Regions from separate parts of the Homo sapiens genome. Here region 2 is linked to region 1. A link means that fine-mapping ties the variant in region 1 to the expression of a gene that starts in the linked region. Tissue or cell type: whole blood. Region 1 holds a variant in brackets; the other region holds the start of a gene. All regions are shown on one strand. Distances are from middle to middle.

What was found. PIP is the estimated chance that this variant, and not a neighbour inherited with it, causes the effect.
Region 2: it holds the start of HILPDA, and the variant in region 1 is fine-mapped to the expression of HILPDA in whole blood (TOPMed, PIP 0.94).

The regions. Positions count from the first base shown.
Region 1 is chr7:128,496,476-128,504,670 of GRCh38, forward strand. It overlaps METTL2B (methyltransferase 2B, tRNA N3-cytidine), which reads left to right. Exons shown (of 9, transcript NM_018396.3): 7 at 1,561-1,667; 8 at 4,428-4,493; 9 at 5,287-8,195. The coding sequence ends at 5,441. Among named protein-coding and RNA genes, the nearest start is that of METTL2B, 24 kb to the left of the region's middle. The variant T/G (reference allele first, on the strand shown) is at 4,077.
Region 2 is chr7:128,451,628-128,459,769 of GRCh38, forward strand. HILPDA (hypoxia inducible lipid droplet associated) reads left to right here and starts at 4,251. Exons shown (of 2, transcript NM_013332.4): 1 at 4,251-4,396; 2 at 5,574-6,791. The coding sequence starts at 5,642. The coding sequence ends at 5,833. It also overlaps the pseudogene EFCAB3P1. RefSeq lists enhancers at 2,279-2,985, 3,894-4,063, 7,748-8,042 and a silencer at 4,164-4,303.

The DNA of each region.
Region 1 (8,195 bases):
TGAGGCTGCAGTGAAGTGAGCTATGATCACACCACTGCACTGCAGCCTGGGTGACAGAGTGAGACCCTGTCTCAAAAAAAACCTATGACTTTAGAAGTTTCAATGCTACAAACTTTTTTAAAATTGACATGGACTAAAACAAATTATTAAAATTTAAAATTCAAGTCAGCCACAGTGGCACACACTTTTAGTCCCAGCTACCTAGGAGACTGAGGCAGGAGGATCACTTGAGCCCAAGAGTCCAGCCTGGGCAACATAGCATAGCAGGACCCCAGCTGCTTTTTCTTTGTTTGTTTGTTTGTTTGTTTGTTTGTTTGTTTTCTGAGACAGAGTTTCGCTCTTGTTGCCCAGGCTGGAGTGTGTGCTATGGTCTTGGCTTACTGCAATCTCTGCCTCCCGGGTTCAAGCGATTCTCCTGCCTCAGCATCCCAAGTAGCTGGGATTACAGGTGCCTGCCACCATCCCTGGCTAATTTTTTTGTATTTTTAGTAGAGACAGGGTTTCACCATGTTGGTCTGGCTGGTCTCGAACTCCTGATCTCAGGTGATCTGCCTGCCTTAGCCATTTTTCTGTTTTTTGTTTTTTTTAAGTGGGAAACATTCATTATGCAAAATTTAAATAGACTTTGAAATTTTTTTTGGTGAAGTTTGTAGCATTTAGACTTCTCAAGTTATGAAAGCTTCAACCTGCACCAAGACTTTTGAAGAACACTGCATATGGAAAGCGCAGACCTAAGTGTAAAACCCTCTGTCTGTTATACTCATTTGCATACTGATTGTATTGCCATGTAACTTGTAAGTTCTTGAGGACAAGTCTTCATTTAGCAAACAGAAAGATACAGCCCCTACATTGAAAGAGCTCAGGTCTAATGGTGCAGGCAGATAAGTCCCCTAGCAGAACCCACTGGATGCTCAGGATTCGGCTTAGCCACAGGAGCACAGGGCAAAGATGGCTATCTAGGACAGTGGGGAAGTGATCCAGATGGAGAGCAGAGAACTGTTGTTTGTTTGTTTGTTCTTTGGAGATGGAGTCTCAGTTACTCTGCCGCCCAGGCCGGAGGGCAGTGGTGCAATCTTGGCTCACTGCAACCTCCACCTCCCAGGTTCCAGAAGTTCTCCTGCCTCAGCCTCCTGAGTGTCTGGGATTATAGACGCATGCCACCACGCCTGGCTACTTTTTGTATTTTCAGTAGAGACGGGGTTTCACCGTTTTGGCCAGACTGGTCTCAAACTCCTGACCTCATTTGATCCGCCTGCCTCAGCCTCCCAAAATGGTGGTATTACAAGCATGAGCCACCGCACCTGGCCGGGAGCAGAGAACTTTCTTATGGCAGAAGCAGGCTGTCCTTGGGCCTCTTCGGGCTGAAGGCAGTGGATTGAGGCCACAGCTGTGAGCAGGCAGCTAACGTCCTTCAGTTCTAACTGAAGAGTAGAGGAGCTTAGATCTCAGACTTGGTGTGTCAGTTGAGGAAGTCCACTGGCTTTTTGGGATATGCTACAGGGAAAGAGAACCCTGTCTTTAAGGAGACCTGATTAACTATAATTCCCTGTGTCTCCACAGGATGCAGAAGGCTATCAACAGGCTGAGCAGGCTTCTGAAACCTGGGGGGATGGTACTTCTGCGAGATTACGGCCGCTATGACATGGCTCAGCTTCGGTTTAAAAAAGGTATTTTGAGAGTGCTGAATCCTAACCACTAGAGATCATGTCCTTTGCAGGGACATGGATGAAGCTGGAAATCATCATTCTCAGCAAACTAACACAAGAACAGAAAACCAAACACCATATTTTCTCACTCATAAGTGGGAGTTGAACAATGAGAACACATGGACGCGGGGTGGGGGGCATCACACACTGGGGCCTGTCTGGAGGTGGGGGGGCTGGGAGAGGGAGAGCATTAGCAGAAATACCTAATGTAGATGACGGGTAGATAGGTGCAGCAAACCTCCATGGCACGTGTATACATATGTATCAAACCTGTATGTTCTGCACATGTACCCCAGAACTTAAAGTATAATTTTAAAAAAAAAAAAGGTATGTGGCCACTATAATCAAAAAATGGTGCTGCCATCAGAATAGAAACTCTAGAATTAGAACTCCTTATATAAAGCCATTTAATATGTGACAGAGTAGTATATTTTTTAAGAAAACTGAAGAGGCTTGTATAATCTAGATATTGAGGTCTTTTTAAGCAAGACAGCTACCTTTAGAAGAGCTTTTATTAGAAAGACATTTGAAAGACAGCCGGGCGCAGTGGCTCATGCCTGTAATTCCAACACTTTGGGAGGCCGAGTCGGGCAGATCACCTGAGGTCAAGAGTTCGAGACCAGCCCGACCAACATGGAGAAACCCTGTCTCTACTAAAAATACAAATTAGCCGGGCATGGTGGCACATGCCTGTAATCCCAGCTACTCGGGAGGCTGAGGCAGGAGAATCGCTTGAACCCAGGAGGCGGAGCTTGCAGTGAGCCGAGATCGCACCATTGCACTCCAGCCTGGGCAACAAGAGTGAAACTCTGTCTCAAAAAAAAAAAAAAAGACATCTGAAAGACATAAATAATTTTAAATGTGGCATGACAAAAGATGCCATTAAAAATGTAAAAGGCAAATGACGGAGTAAGAAGGAATATTTTCAGTGCATATAATAGATGAAGACTTAATATCTTTGCTCTTCAGGGAGCTGTCATGAAACTGATAAGGATCAGTGACCCACCCAAAAAGCAGGTGAAGAGTGTTTAGTCAGTTCACAGAAGAACGTATCTAAATGGCCAGTAAACAACACTTCAAGGAAATAAAAATAACAAGTTAGTACTTCTTATTGCTGGCCAATTCAAAGAAAGAGGTGCATTCCTTCATTACTGGTAGAAAAAGAAATTGTTACAGCCTTTTTTTTTTCAGATGGAGTTTTGCCCTTGTTGCCCAGGCTGGAGCGCAATGGCGCGATCTCGGCTCACTGCAACCTCTGCCTCCTGGGTCCACCCACCTTGGCCTCCCAAAATGCTGGAATTACAGGTGTGAGCCACTGTGCCCAGTATTAACAGCCTTTTTTTTTTTTTTTTTTTGAGACGGAGTCTCGCTCTGTCTCCCAGGCTGAAGCGCAATGGCACGATCTCGGCTCACTGCAACGTCTGTCTCTTGGGTTCAAGCAATTCTCCTGCCTCAGCCTCCCGAGTAGCCGAGACTACAGGCATGTGCCACCACGCCTGGCTAATTTTTTTGTATTTTTAGTAGAGACAGGGTTTCACCATGTTGGTCAGGCTGGTCTCAAACTCCTGACCTCAGGTGATCCACCCACCTCGGCCTCCCAAAGTCCTGGGATTACAGGCGTGAGCCACTGCTCCCAGCTTACAGCCTTTTTTTAAGTACCCAATTATTGTTCAGTCCAGTCTTTTTTTGAATATAGTCAAGAACTAGCACATAATACATGCAGGAGCAAAACTTTGTAAACAAAGTGAATGCCTCTGGATAGGGAGATGTCGTGCTTGTCACCTGAGGTGGACCCCATACCACTGAACTTGGAGGGATTTCTGTTGTGTATTCAGTGAGAGGAGAGCAATGTGCAAGGGAGTATTTTAAACTCCATCCCCGTATACCAGTATCTGCAGGGAAATAAGTATACACGTGTGATGATTTGGGCATTCGGGAAGGTCTAGAAGTATGTGCCAGGCTGGTAAACTGAGATGAGGTCAGGGAGGTTAGCAGCAGAAGGGAAAGCATGTTCATGATCAAAACAGTATCTGAGTTGTATTTATGATTCTGTAGACACGTGAAGAGACATGCAAAGGACAGTCACCACCAAAATGGTAATGGTTGTCTCAAGTTTCCTTAAACTCAGCTATATTGCTTAATTAAAGAAAAAAAATAGGCCAGGCACGGTGGCTCATGCCTTTAATCCCAGCACTTTGGGAGGCCAAGGCGGGTGGATCACCTGAGGTCAGGAGTTTGAGACCAGCCTAGCCAACATGGTGAAACCTTGTCTCTACTAAAAATACAAAAAATTAGCTGGGCGTGGTGGTGGGAACCTGTAATCCCAGCTACTTGGGAGGCTGAGGCAGGAGAATCACTTGAACCTGGGAG[T/G]CAGAGGTTGCAGTGATCTGAGGTCACGCCATTGCACCCAGCCTAGGCAACAAGAGCGAAACTCTGTCTCAAAAAAAATAAATAAATAAAAAGTTTGTGCTGTTAGTTTAATAGGGTTGGGAGAGTGAACAAGTTGTTTTCATCAAATAATTCTAGAGTTTTGGAGTGGGGTGCTTAGGAACCTCATGTTTTCTGACATTGTGACTTACTCCCGTTGAGCTGCTCTTCCCGAAGCACTGAGGCAGGAGTGCTCTCCACCCAACAAACTGGCCTCTCAGTTAACATTCCTTAGCAGTGCAAGTCAAAGAGACACTTTAAAGTGTCTCTGATTTTTAATACATCACTCTGCAGGTCAGTGTCTATCTGGAAATTTCTATGTGAGAGGTGATGGAACCAGAGTTTACTTCTTCACACAAGGTATGAAACACTCATCTTTTTACGCTAAAAGTCCCCAGTACCAGATGGTCTTCAAGGCACATTCAGAAGGAAAACTATCTGGCCCCTCCTGCCTTTTAGGCAGGCTGTTTCCTTCGGTTCCCCGCTGCTCACACCCTCTTCCACCCTGGGCTAGGCTACCCATGGCAGCCAGCCACTCGGGCCCCCAGGCAGCCCTGGCTTGTCCATGCCTTCAGTCCTGCTCTGCTCTCCCTGTCTGCCACTGTCCAAAATGGGAAGCCTGCCCACTCTGCAAGGCTCACCTCCAGTCCAGCCTGTCTCACCCTCTACACGGGGTTGTGCTTTGGTGTGCCTGGGTCAGGGTGAACCCTGGGTTCTAGGGGTGCCGGGAACTGCTCTCCTCTGCAACTGGCCCATCCACAGGCTTCATCCTTCACTTGGGCCTTCTGTTCCTGGGCCCTTTTTAGGGTCACCTTCTTTGAGCCTTTGGTTAAGATGATGAAACCTCTTTCCTAAAGCAATTGCTTTGACATACGTAGATAGTTTTGCATAAATTTTAAGGTGTTCATAGAGCCTAAAGGCCAAATATAAACCAAAGGTTTTTAAAAAAGAAAAAACCGCGGCCTATACACAGTGGCTTCCCCTACCTAAACATGAACTTGTTGTTACCAAGCCACCACTGCATTTATAACCAAATGGCCATGTAAAAAACACGACAGCAACTTCCCAGAGCCCCATTTAACAAGGACTTAGTAGATAAAAATGCCTTTTCTTGAGGGGAAAATGCATAAACATCTTTTATTTTCCACACTAGAGGAACTGGACACGCTTTTCACCACTGCTGGACTGGAAAAAGTTCAGAATCTGGTGGACCGCCGACTGCAGGTGAACCGAGGGAAGCAACTGACAATGTACCGGGTTTGGATTCAGTGCAAATACTGCAAGCCCCTTCTGTCCAGCACCAGCTAAGAGGCACCTGCTGCCAACACGATGCAAGCCCGTTGTGTTTCCGAGCTTTTTTAAAAAAAAATTTGTAGCACCGGGCATGGTGCATGCCTGTAATCCCAGCCACTCAGGAGGCTGAGGCAGGGAGGATCCATTGAGCCCAGGAGTCCAGCCTGGGCAAAATAGCGAGAGACCCTGAATCTGAAAGTAATGATAAAATAAAAAGAATATAAATGAGGTCTCGTTGATGCTGGACAATTCAAGAATTCAGACTTGAACCTTAAACCTAGGAAAAGTTACTTTGTATCAGGATTCTAACAATTATGCTTCATATTTGTGAAGTCCTTTAAAACATAATTTTCTCAAGTTCTTTCTTTGAGACCTCAATCTGTCTTAGCATTTTGTAACTAATAACTGAAATTTTATTCAAAGGAATTGTAAACCTTAAACCACCATTTATTTCCATGTGAAAAAGTGTTATATATGACAAGTGTTTTTTGATTGTAATTGCGTTAAATCTTTTGAGAGTGTAAATGCCGGGCTAGGCAATTGCAGTTAATACATACAGGGGTTAGTGAAGGGCTTATTAAGTTGTAGGGGAAGCAAGCTGGGAAGAATCAGATCAGATATTTTCCTGACAAGAAAAAAATGACCCTGTAGACAGCATCAAAATGTGGTGTTCTTGTTAAGTAATTGATCGTGGTCTTTGCTTTAATCTTAGTTCCGCCAGGCACGGTGGCTCACACCTGTAATCCCAGCACTTTGGGAGGCCGAGGCGGGCAGATCACCTGAGGTCAGGAGTTCGAGACCAGCGTGGCCAACATGGTGAAACCCCGTCTCTACTAAAGATAAAAAAATTAGCTGGGTGTGTTGGTGGGTGCCTGTAATCCAGCTACTCGGGAGGCTGAGGCAGGAGAATCACTTGAACCCAGGAGGCAGAGGTTGCAGTGAGCTGAGATTGCGCCACTGTACTCCAGCCTGGGCAACAAAGCAAGACTCTGTCTCAAAAAAATAAAAATAAAAAAAATCTTAGTTCCATGGAATTTTAAGCACTGTTCCCCCTCTAACCTATGTCTAAAGAATTAAAAGAATTTGGCTGGGTGCGGTAGCTCATGCCTGTAATCCCAACACTTTGGGAGGCTGAGGCAGGTGGATCACGAGGTCAGGAGATCGAGACCATCCTGGCTAACACGGTGAAACCTCGTCTCCACTAAAAATACCAAAAAAAATAGCTGGGCATGGTGGCATGCGCCTGTAGTCCCCTGTAGTCCCAGCTACTCGGGAGGCTAAGGCAGGAGAATCGTTTGAACCTGGGAGGCAGAGGTTGCAGTGAGCCGAGATCATGTCACTGCATTCCAGCCTGGGCAACAGAGGAAGACTCTGTCTCAAAAAAATAAAAGAAAAGAATTTTCACTTTTTGCAAAATTATCTTTTTTTACTGCACCCTTAAGTGTTTGACACAAAAGGAATTGAGAGAACTTCTTAATTTTAACCACATCATCACTTCACTTCTGAATGTGATCACTGTCAGTGTTAGATGCTTTTTTTTTTTTTTTTTAGGAGACAGGGCTCTCACTTTGTTGCCCAGGCTGGAGTTCAGTGGTGCAATGATAGCTCATTATCACCTCGAACTTCTGGCTTGAGCCATCGCTCCACCTCAGCCTCCTGAGTAGCTAGGACTGCAGGTGGGCACCATCATGCCTAGCTAATTGTTAGATCCTTTTTTTTTATGTTCTGCATTTTTTCAATTATTTTTACATATTTCTGTCTTGATCCATGCAGTTATAGGATATATCCTTAATTTTAGAAAGTAAGGACTTTTCGACCAGGCATGGCGGCTCACGCCTATAATCCCAGCACTTTGGGAGGCTGAGGTGGGCAGATCACTTGAGGTCAGGAGTTCCAGTCCAGCCCGGCTAACATAGTGAAACCCCGTCTCCACTAAAAAATAAAAAATCAGCCCGGCATGGTTGTGGGCGCCTGTAATCCCAGCTACTCAGGAGGCTGAGGTAGGAGAATTGCTTGAACCTGGGAGGCGGAGGTTGCAGTGAGCTGAGATGGTGCCATTGCACTCCAGCCTGGGCGACAAGAGCGAAACTGCATCTCAAAAACAAAGATGCCTAGCTTTCACCTTGTTGATGTTTTTCTAAATTTTGGAATAATAAATTTATATAGGAATACTGCAAGAATAGTCCATTTTTTTCTGATGTCCCAACATCAGCAAATATATTACCAAATATATCCATCACAAGTAGGAATACATGGAAACATTAATGCCAGCCACTAACCATTCATGTTTACCCAGTAGTCCCAATAATAGCTTTGTCACACAAAAACATGATTATGTTGGCTGGGCACAGTGGCTCCTGTAATCTTAGCATTTTGGGAGCCCAAGGCAGGAGGATGACTTGAGGCCAGGAGTTCAAGACCAGGCTGGGTAATGTAGCAAGACCCTGACTTTTTTTTTTTTTTTTTTTGAGATGGAGTTTCGCTCTTGTTGCCCAGGCTGGAGTACAATGGCACGATCTCGGCTCACTGCAATCTCCACCTCCCAAGTTTAAGTGATTCTCCTGCCTCAGCCTCCCAAGTAGCTGGAATTACAGGCATGCAGCACCATTCCCAGCTAAATTTTTTGTATTTTTAGTAGAGACAAGGTTTCTCCATGTTGGTCAGGCTGATCTCGAACTCCCGACCTCAGGTGATCTGCCCGCCTCAGCCTCCCAAAGTGCTGGGATTACAGGCGTGAGCCACCACGCCCGGCCAAGACCCTGACTTTTT
Region 2 (8,142 bases), 45 kb before region 1:
CTTTTTTCTGGCTTTATGGTAATTCACTGTCTGAATGCACCATCTTTTATTTAACCAGTTCTCTACTGATGGGCTGTTTTTTCCAGTCTTTCATTATCACAAACAGTGCTGCAACAGTGCTACCTTTAAACACTCCATTCTCTACATGTGGAAGGATAAATCCTAAAAGTGGAATTCTGGGCTAAAGGGCATGTGTATGCTTTTATTTTTATAGACATTGCCAAATGGTAGTCAGTGGTCTTTTTTAACACCTCAATGGTCTTGAGGTGTTTAAAAAACAAGTGGGGGTCAGGGTAACAATTACTGACAAATTGATTTCCATACTGAATGTACCAGTTTATACTTACCAGAAATGTAAGTACATGTTATTTAAATGAACACTTGATGATAAGATCAAATTTGTGAAAATACTTGTGTTCTTAGTATGGTACTCTTGTGTGGGTTGACTTCAGAATCACTTCTTTTTAGGGGCTTTGGGGGAAGGGCAGCTTATAAAAAGCTTTCCTTGGTTGCAGCTCCAAGGAGGAGGTAGCACCTGAAAACGGCTTCTCTTGGCGCCCTTATCTACATTTCCTTGATGAAACAATGGGTACTCACTGAAGATGCTGGGTAAAATATTCATTCATTTATTCCTTCAGTCAACAAATATTTATCAAAAGCCTACTATTTGGTGCTAGCTGCTGGAGATGGAATGGAAACAAAATCAGACCAAACACTCCTTTCACTGACATTTTCAGGCTTTTGAAAGGACACAGACATTAATACAACTAAGGGTAAAGTAACACACTGGGAAAGAAATGCCTATCATGCCACTGGAGCCCGGAACAGGGTCCGAGGGTCAGCAAGGGTGACCAGAGGAAATATGTTTGAATTGAGATATGAAAGATGAGTAAAAGACTAGGTGAAGAAAGTCTCTTCTTCCTCTGGAAGAAAAAGCATAGTTAACAAATAAAGAAGGCTGGGTATGGTGGCTCACACCTGTAATCCCAGCACTTTGTGAGGCTGAGGCACGTGGATCACTTGAGGTCAGGAGTTTGAGACCAGTCAGGGCAGCATAGAGAGACCCCATCTCTACAAAAAAAAAAGAAAGAAAAGCAAGAAAAGAAAGGAAAGAAAGGGAAGAAAGGGAGAAAGAAAGAAAAAGAAAGAAAGAAAGAAAGAGAAAGAAAGAAAGAAAAAGAAAGAAAGAAAGAAAGGAAAGAAAAGGAAAAGAAAAGAAAAGAATTAGCTGGTGTGGTGGTGGCAAAGAAAGAAAAAAGAAAGAATTAGCTGGGTGTGGTGGTGTGTAACTGTAGTCCCAGCTACTTAGGAGGCTGAGGTGGTAGGATAGCTTGAGCCCAGAAAGTCAAGGCTGCAGTGAGCAGTGATCGTGCCACTGTACTCCAGCCTGGAAAACAAAGTGAGACCCTTTCTCAACAACAACAACAAATAAAGAAGAGAGGCAATAATACCTACCTCATAGCATCGTTAGAAAAATTAAATAATACATGTAATGCATTTAGCAAAATGTTCAGCACGTATCAGTTACTTGAAGAATGCTTATTTTGTTTCCACTCTTTCTTTCTTCTTTTTTTTTTTTTTGAGATGGAGTTTCCCTCTTGTTGCCCAGGCTGGAGTGCAATGGTCTGATCGCAGCTCAGTGCAACCTCTGCCTGCCAGGTTCAGGTGATTCTCCTGCCTCGGCCTCCCAAGTAGTTGGGATTAAAGGCATGCGCCACCATGCCTGGCTAATTTTGTATTTTTAGTAGAGAATGTTGGTCCATGTTGGTCAGGCTGGTCTCGAACTCCTGACCTCAGGTGATCTGCCCGCCTCAGCCTCTCAAAGTGCTGGGATTACAGGTGTGAGCCACCATGCCCAGCTCTTTTTTTTTTTTTTTTTTAAATAACCATAGTGAATGTTAAAATCCCAGTTCCCCAAGCAAAACATTACCACCCTACTTATGTACTTACTTCTAAACTCTACCCCACACTGCCTTGGGTTGTTAGTTATCTTATCTTATTCAGGTCTTGTTTACTCAACCAGGTGACAAGCTTATTTAGAACAAGAATCTGGCTTTATACTTTTTAGCAAAATAATAGCTACTATTTGTTGAGCATATATGACATACTCTTTATGGGCATTATTTCCAACCCTCACAACAACCCTGTTTTACAGATTATTTTCCTCATTTTACAGATAAGGAAACTAAAGTTCAAAGGGGTCAGTTAGCCTGGCCAAGGTGTTGAAGGCAGGACTAAATCCTGATGCAGGTAGCTACATTTGTAGCTGACAGAATGGTAAAGCATAGAGCTGCCCTCACCCAAACCCTTCTTATTTCCAACTGGCATGACCTTTAGACAATGGCAGGGAATATGGGGAGAAAGAATTGTTGGAGAGGTGCCCATCCCTTCTTCCAGCTGTGTGAAGTATAAATTTAGAACTCAAACTAAGTAGAACTCAAATGGTCATTGTAGAATTCCTGCATTCATTCAGCAAGCCTAGGCTGCTAATGAGCAAAACCCCTCACTGGGAGTTTTGTAGTTGATGATACAGATAATGTTAAGATTCATAGAATGTTTTTTATGTGCCAGGCATTGTTCTAAGCGCTTTATATGGATTAATTCATTTAATATCAGGTTAAGACTGTTATGATCTCACAGAACAGCTGAGGAAACAGAACTACAAGAAGGTTAAAGGGTTCGCCCAAGGCCTTCACCTGGCAAAGTAGTGGCGTTTGGATCTGGCAGTGATTTCGCAGCTTGAGACCTATTTAATAACAGTGTGAGAGAAGGGTCACACAGTCAAGCAAAAAAACAGACGAAACTCTGGTATAGCGAAGGACCAAAAGTTCTGCGGGCTGAGCAGGAAAGTTGGCTCCAAATGTCTGCCTGCCTGCCAGCAGACCTCCAGCCCCAACCTTCTGCTTTCCCGGCTTCCCCACCCCCTCATTCCCGACAGACCACAGCCAGCCAGCCAGGAAAGGAGGGGAAAGGTCGCAGTGGGGATGGCTCCTCCCTTCCCGTCTTAGAGCCCTTCTTAAGCAGAGCCCGCCGAGCTCGCTGAGATGTGGAAAGTCACAGGGTTCTTTCCCATCCGGCACGGGCACTTGACCCGGGTACACGGAACCGCCAGTTCTAAAGCCACCAGCGGCCTTCCCTTCCACGGCGTGTACACCCCTTCCCGGGGGTCCTCCCCATTCCCAGTGTCTCTCCGGGACTCTACTTTCTGAGATCCCCCGTTGCGTGCTCTCAAGACAGACCGCACAGTCTTGGCTGGGTGGGTTCGGGGGTGATTAGTAAGGCAGCCTAGCCCCCCAAATCTGGACATAAGGCTGGTCTGTGACCTCCTGGCTCTTTAGTTCAAGCCGAAAGCACCCTTAAAAATCATCTAGCGGCCGGGCGCGGTGGCTCACGCCTGTAGCCCCAGCACTTTGGGAGGCAGAGGTGGGAGGATGGCTTGAGATCAGGAGTTCGAGACCAGCCTGGGCAACATAGCGAGACTGTCTCTATTTAAAAAAAAAAAAGAAGAAGAAGAAGAAAAATCATCTAGTGGCCAATGTCTTCATTACAGATGAGAAAACCGAGGCCCATTTAAATACCAAGTGACTTGCCCATATGCAGTTAGGATCCCACACCAGGGCCAGGAGTATTTCACGTTTTCTGAAGCGACACGACAAACTCTCATAGAAAGCAGAGCTTGCAGAGCTTAATATGTTGCACAAGGGCCTCACCATTCCAGAGATACCGATGGCAACTGAAACTCGGGATTTGGAATCTTGGTACAGCTATGAAGTGAAACAAAACCAGCTCTTCAGTCCTTGAAATGAAGAAAATAACGAGTGGGGTAGGGGTCTGGTGCCCTCTGACAATTTAGTGCACCCGAAATCTCTGGGGAAGAACCCACCCTTCACGGCGGGGCTTCACGGACACGAAGGCCATCGGTGTTTTTCACCTACTGGGGAGAAGGGATATGTGCTCTCTGACTCCTTCAAATGTTTTCTACAGCAGAGATGGCAGTCGAGATTAATACACACGCCTCGTCTCACTCCAGAACACAATGACTCAAAACCGCACGACGTGTACTTTTGGAAACAGCTCCGCGGGAGAGCACCCGGGACAATCCCCAAACCCCGTTGCCCGCGGGGTGGGGCCGCGGACGTGCGCCACGTCGTGTGCGTCCCGGGCGTGCGTGCGGCCTCCAGTGCGCGTGCGCGTACCCTCCTGGGGCGTGCTCGCGGCTATAAGGGGCGGAGGCTGGGCGGCGTTGCTCTGCGCTCTGCGGCTGACGGCGCTTTTGTCTCCGGTGAGTTTTGTGGCGGGAAGCTTCTGCGCTGGTGCTTAGTAACCGACTTTCCTCCGGACTCCTGCACGACCTGCTCCTACAGCCGGCGATCCACTCCCGGCTGTTCCCCCGGAGGTGAGCGGCCCTGTGGGCTTCCCCGGCTCCCCACCCCCATCGCTAGAGTGCTCGCCGCGCTAGCAGCCTCGCGTTCCAGGGCTGGGGGTGCGCCGCCGGGATCCTCTCTGATCGCCCACGCCCCATCTGGGGTCCCCATTCAGCCGTCAGCCCTGTTTTGTCCTAAGGTGGTCCTAACTAGGATCCACGTGGCCCATCCCACGCCCACAGGTGCTGAGTTAGGCATCCCTGCCATGCCCTCCCAGAGCACCTTCACGATCTCCTTGCTGTCCCAACACTTAGCGTGTTGCGTGTTAACTACCCTTTGTCTATAAGGTTTGCAATGTGGCCCTAGTATCTTCCAGGGTACCTAACACATTGCAGATATTCATGGTATGTTTGTTAAATAAATGAACTTGATAGATTTGACCCTCATAGAGTTATTTGGACTTGCAAAAAGTTTGTAGTTAACTCCAATCTGTGATGTGGGAGAGACTTCTAGGCAGGTTCCTTTCTCCAGGGCATGTTCTTATATTTCCCATTACCCACCACCCCCCTGCAAAAGGACTGGGCCTATTTCAGGAAGGTGACTGATGCCTGCACTGTAGCACAGGGGTTGTGTATTGTGCCTTGCAGGAACAAAATTTTCAATAAAGTAAATGTTTGTTTGTTTGTTTTTGAGACGGAGTTTTGCTTTTGTTGCCGAGGCTGGAGTGCAATGGCGCGATCTTGGCTCACTGCAACCTCTGCCTCCCGGGTTCAAGCAATTCTGCCTCAGCCTCCCGAGTAGCTGGGATTACAGGCATGTGCCACTATGCCCGGCTAATTTTTGTATTTGTAGTAGAGACAGGGTTTCACCATGTTGGTCAGGCTGGTCTCGAATTCCTGACCTCAGGTGATCCACCCGCCTCGGCCTCCCAGAGCGCTGGGATTACAGGTATGAGCCACCGCGCCTGGCCTAAGAAAGTAAAAGTTTTAAGAAGTGTTCTTGAATTAGTCCAAGAAGCAACACTGGCTCCGCAGCCATGAAGTTTGCAATGTAAAATATTCTTGGAGAGTTGCTGTGCAACTCCCTGGTCCCTGTGTCCCTCACTGGCTAAGCCTCTCCTTCAGCCCTGTGAGAGGACAGAAGAGTCAGGGCTGGATGCATGCATATCCCCAAAAGGCTATAGATTCATCCTTTCCTCTTTTTTCTCAGGGTCCAGAGGCCTTTCAGAAGGAGAAGGCAGCTCTGTTTCTCTGCAGAGGAGTAGGGTCCTTTCAGCCATGAAGCATGTGTTGAACCTCTACCTGTTAGGTGTGGTACTGACCCTACTCTCCATCTTCGTTAGAGTGATGGAGTCCCTAGAGGGCTTACTAGAGAGCCCATCGCCTGGGACCTCCTGGACCACCAGAAGCCAACTAGCCAACACAGAGCCCACCAAGGGCCTTCCAGACCATCCATCCAGAAGCATGTGATAAGACCTCCTTCCATACTGGCCATATTTTGGAACACTGACCTAGACATGTCCAGATGGGAGTCCCATTCCTAGCAGACAAGCTGAGCACCGTTGTAACCAGAGAACTATTACTAGGCCTTGAAGAACCTGTCTAACTGGATGCTCATTGCCTGGGCAAGGCCTGTTTAGGCCGGTTGCGGTGGCTCATGCCTGTAATCCTAGCACTTTGGGAGGCTGAGGTGGGTGGATCACCTGAGGTCAGGAGTTCGAGACCAGCCTCGCCAACATGGCGAAACCCCATCTCTACTAAAAATACAAAAGTTAGCTGGGTGTGGTGGCAGAGGCCTGTAATCCCAGCTCCTTGGGAGGCTGAGGCGGGAGAATTGCTTGAACCCGGGGACGGAGGTTGCAGTGAGCCGAGATCGCACTGCTGTACCCAGCCTGGGCCACAGTGCAAGACTCCATCTCAAAAAAAAAAGAAAAGAAAAAGCCTGTTTAATGCACAGGTGTGAGTGGATTGCTTATGGCTATGAGATAGGTTGATCTCGCCCTTACCCCGGGGTCTGGTGTATGCTGTGCTTTCCTCAGCAGTATGGCTCTGACATCTCTTAGATGTCCCAACTTCAGCTGTTGGGAGATGGTGATATTTTCAACCCTACTTCCTAAACATCTGTCTGGGGTTCCTTTAGTCTTGAATGTCTTATGCTCAATTATTTGGTGTTGAGCCTCTCTTCCACAAGAGCTCCTCCATGTTTGGATAGCAGTTGAAGAGGTTGTGTGGGTGGGCTGTTGGGAGTGAGGATGGAGTGTTCAGTGCCCATTTCTCATTTTACATTTTAAAGTCGTTCCTCCAACATAGTGTGTATTGGTCTGAAGGGGGTGGTGGGATGCCAAAGCCTGCTCAAGTTATGGACATTGTGGCCACCATGTGGCTTAAATGATTTTTTCTAACTAATAAAGTGGAATATATATTTCTACTGTGTGTCATGTTGACTTCTGCTCTTGAAATTCGTGGTAGGGAGGGTCTTAATTTCTAGACCTGAGGTTTAATTTTAACATCTCAATACTTTGGAGCAGGAAAGTGCTTAAATCACTTTGTTTAAAACATAGTATCAGTAGACTTCTGAATTTGGGGGCAGAGGCAGTTGGGTCTGCCATGTATCAACCAGTTATGTGAGCCTAGGCCACGATTATTGCAGGCCTGTCATGACTAGATCTGTAAAGAAGAAGAAAAATGATCACCACTTCCAGCCCCTCTCCTTGAGTCTCTGGGGCAAAGAGGACTATCAGTCCAGGAGGCTGTGGGCTTTTTCTTTTGTACTCTTCAGCGTGTTTTACTTACCCACCAAAAAGGCTGCTTAATTCAGATTGTTCTCAAAGTCAGTTGGTAAAGTGTCCACACCACACAGATGATTATATCTGCTCTCCCAGATCTAAGCAACTTGGCCTTTACTCAAAAGTTGGAGGGGTTTTTTTTTCTTGTATCCATCACTCTTGTACTTCCTGTCCCACGTACAATTGTATTCACTCCTTTGCCCTTCAGAATATATTTATTTACACTCCCATCTGGGCGTGTGCATCATTTTATTAACTTGACTGACTTTTGCTAAAGCGCAACAATGAAGTACAGTGTCTTCTGTTAAGCCAGTTTTGCTTCCTGAGTGTTCTTAAAATGTCACTACCCTAGAAGCCTGTGGGTTAAGCATCACTTTCATTTATTGCACAGTGGTTGTCACTAGTGTTATTTATCAAGTATTTCCAGTTTCCCACCTTTCGGGTACATGGTAAATTGGTCCCCTTGTGGCTGGCAGGGTTTATATGACTGTTACTTTGTTAGCATAGTACTACTCTCAAAAGTCTATTTGGCTTTTTCTCTGGTTTCAGTTTCATGTGCCAGTAGTTACCCTCTTCTAGTCATATTTCTTATATTTGATATATTTTCTCATTCTCATGCTTCTAATTTGGGGTATTTTTGAACCTTCAATTGGAGAGCCTGCACCTTAAGTCTCTCCTCCAAGTGGCTTAGTTTAATTGAAGTGATCTGTGTGCCACCACCCCCTTGTGGTTGGATGGAGCCATGTCATTAGTTCTGGCCAATGAGCTGTGAGTGGTAGTGGCTTGCGTTAATTCTACGTGAGAGCATTTCAGTGCTGGAGAAACCTGCGAGGACCTCTTTTTCCCTCTGTGCAGTGACCAGCAGTGCTTCCTATGGAACTGTTCATTAGTGTAGGTCCTGGAATGAGGATGCATGGCGCAGGGCCCTTAATCTGTCCAATCTGACTGTGATGTGGGAGAGACTTCTAGACATGTTGCTTTCTCTAGGGTATG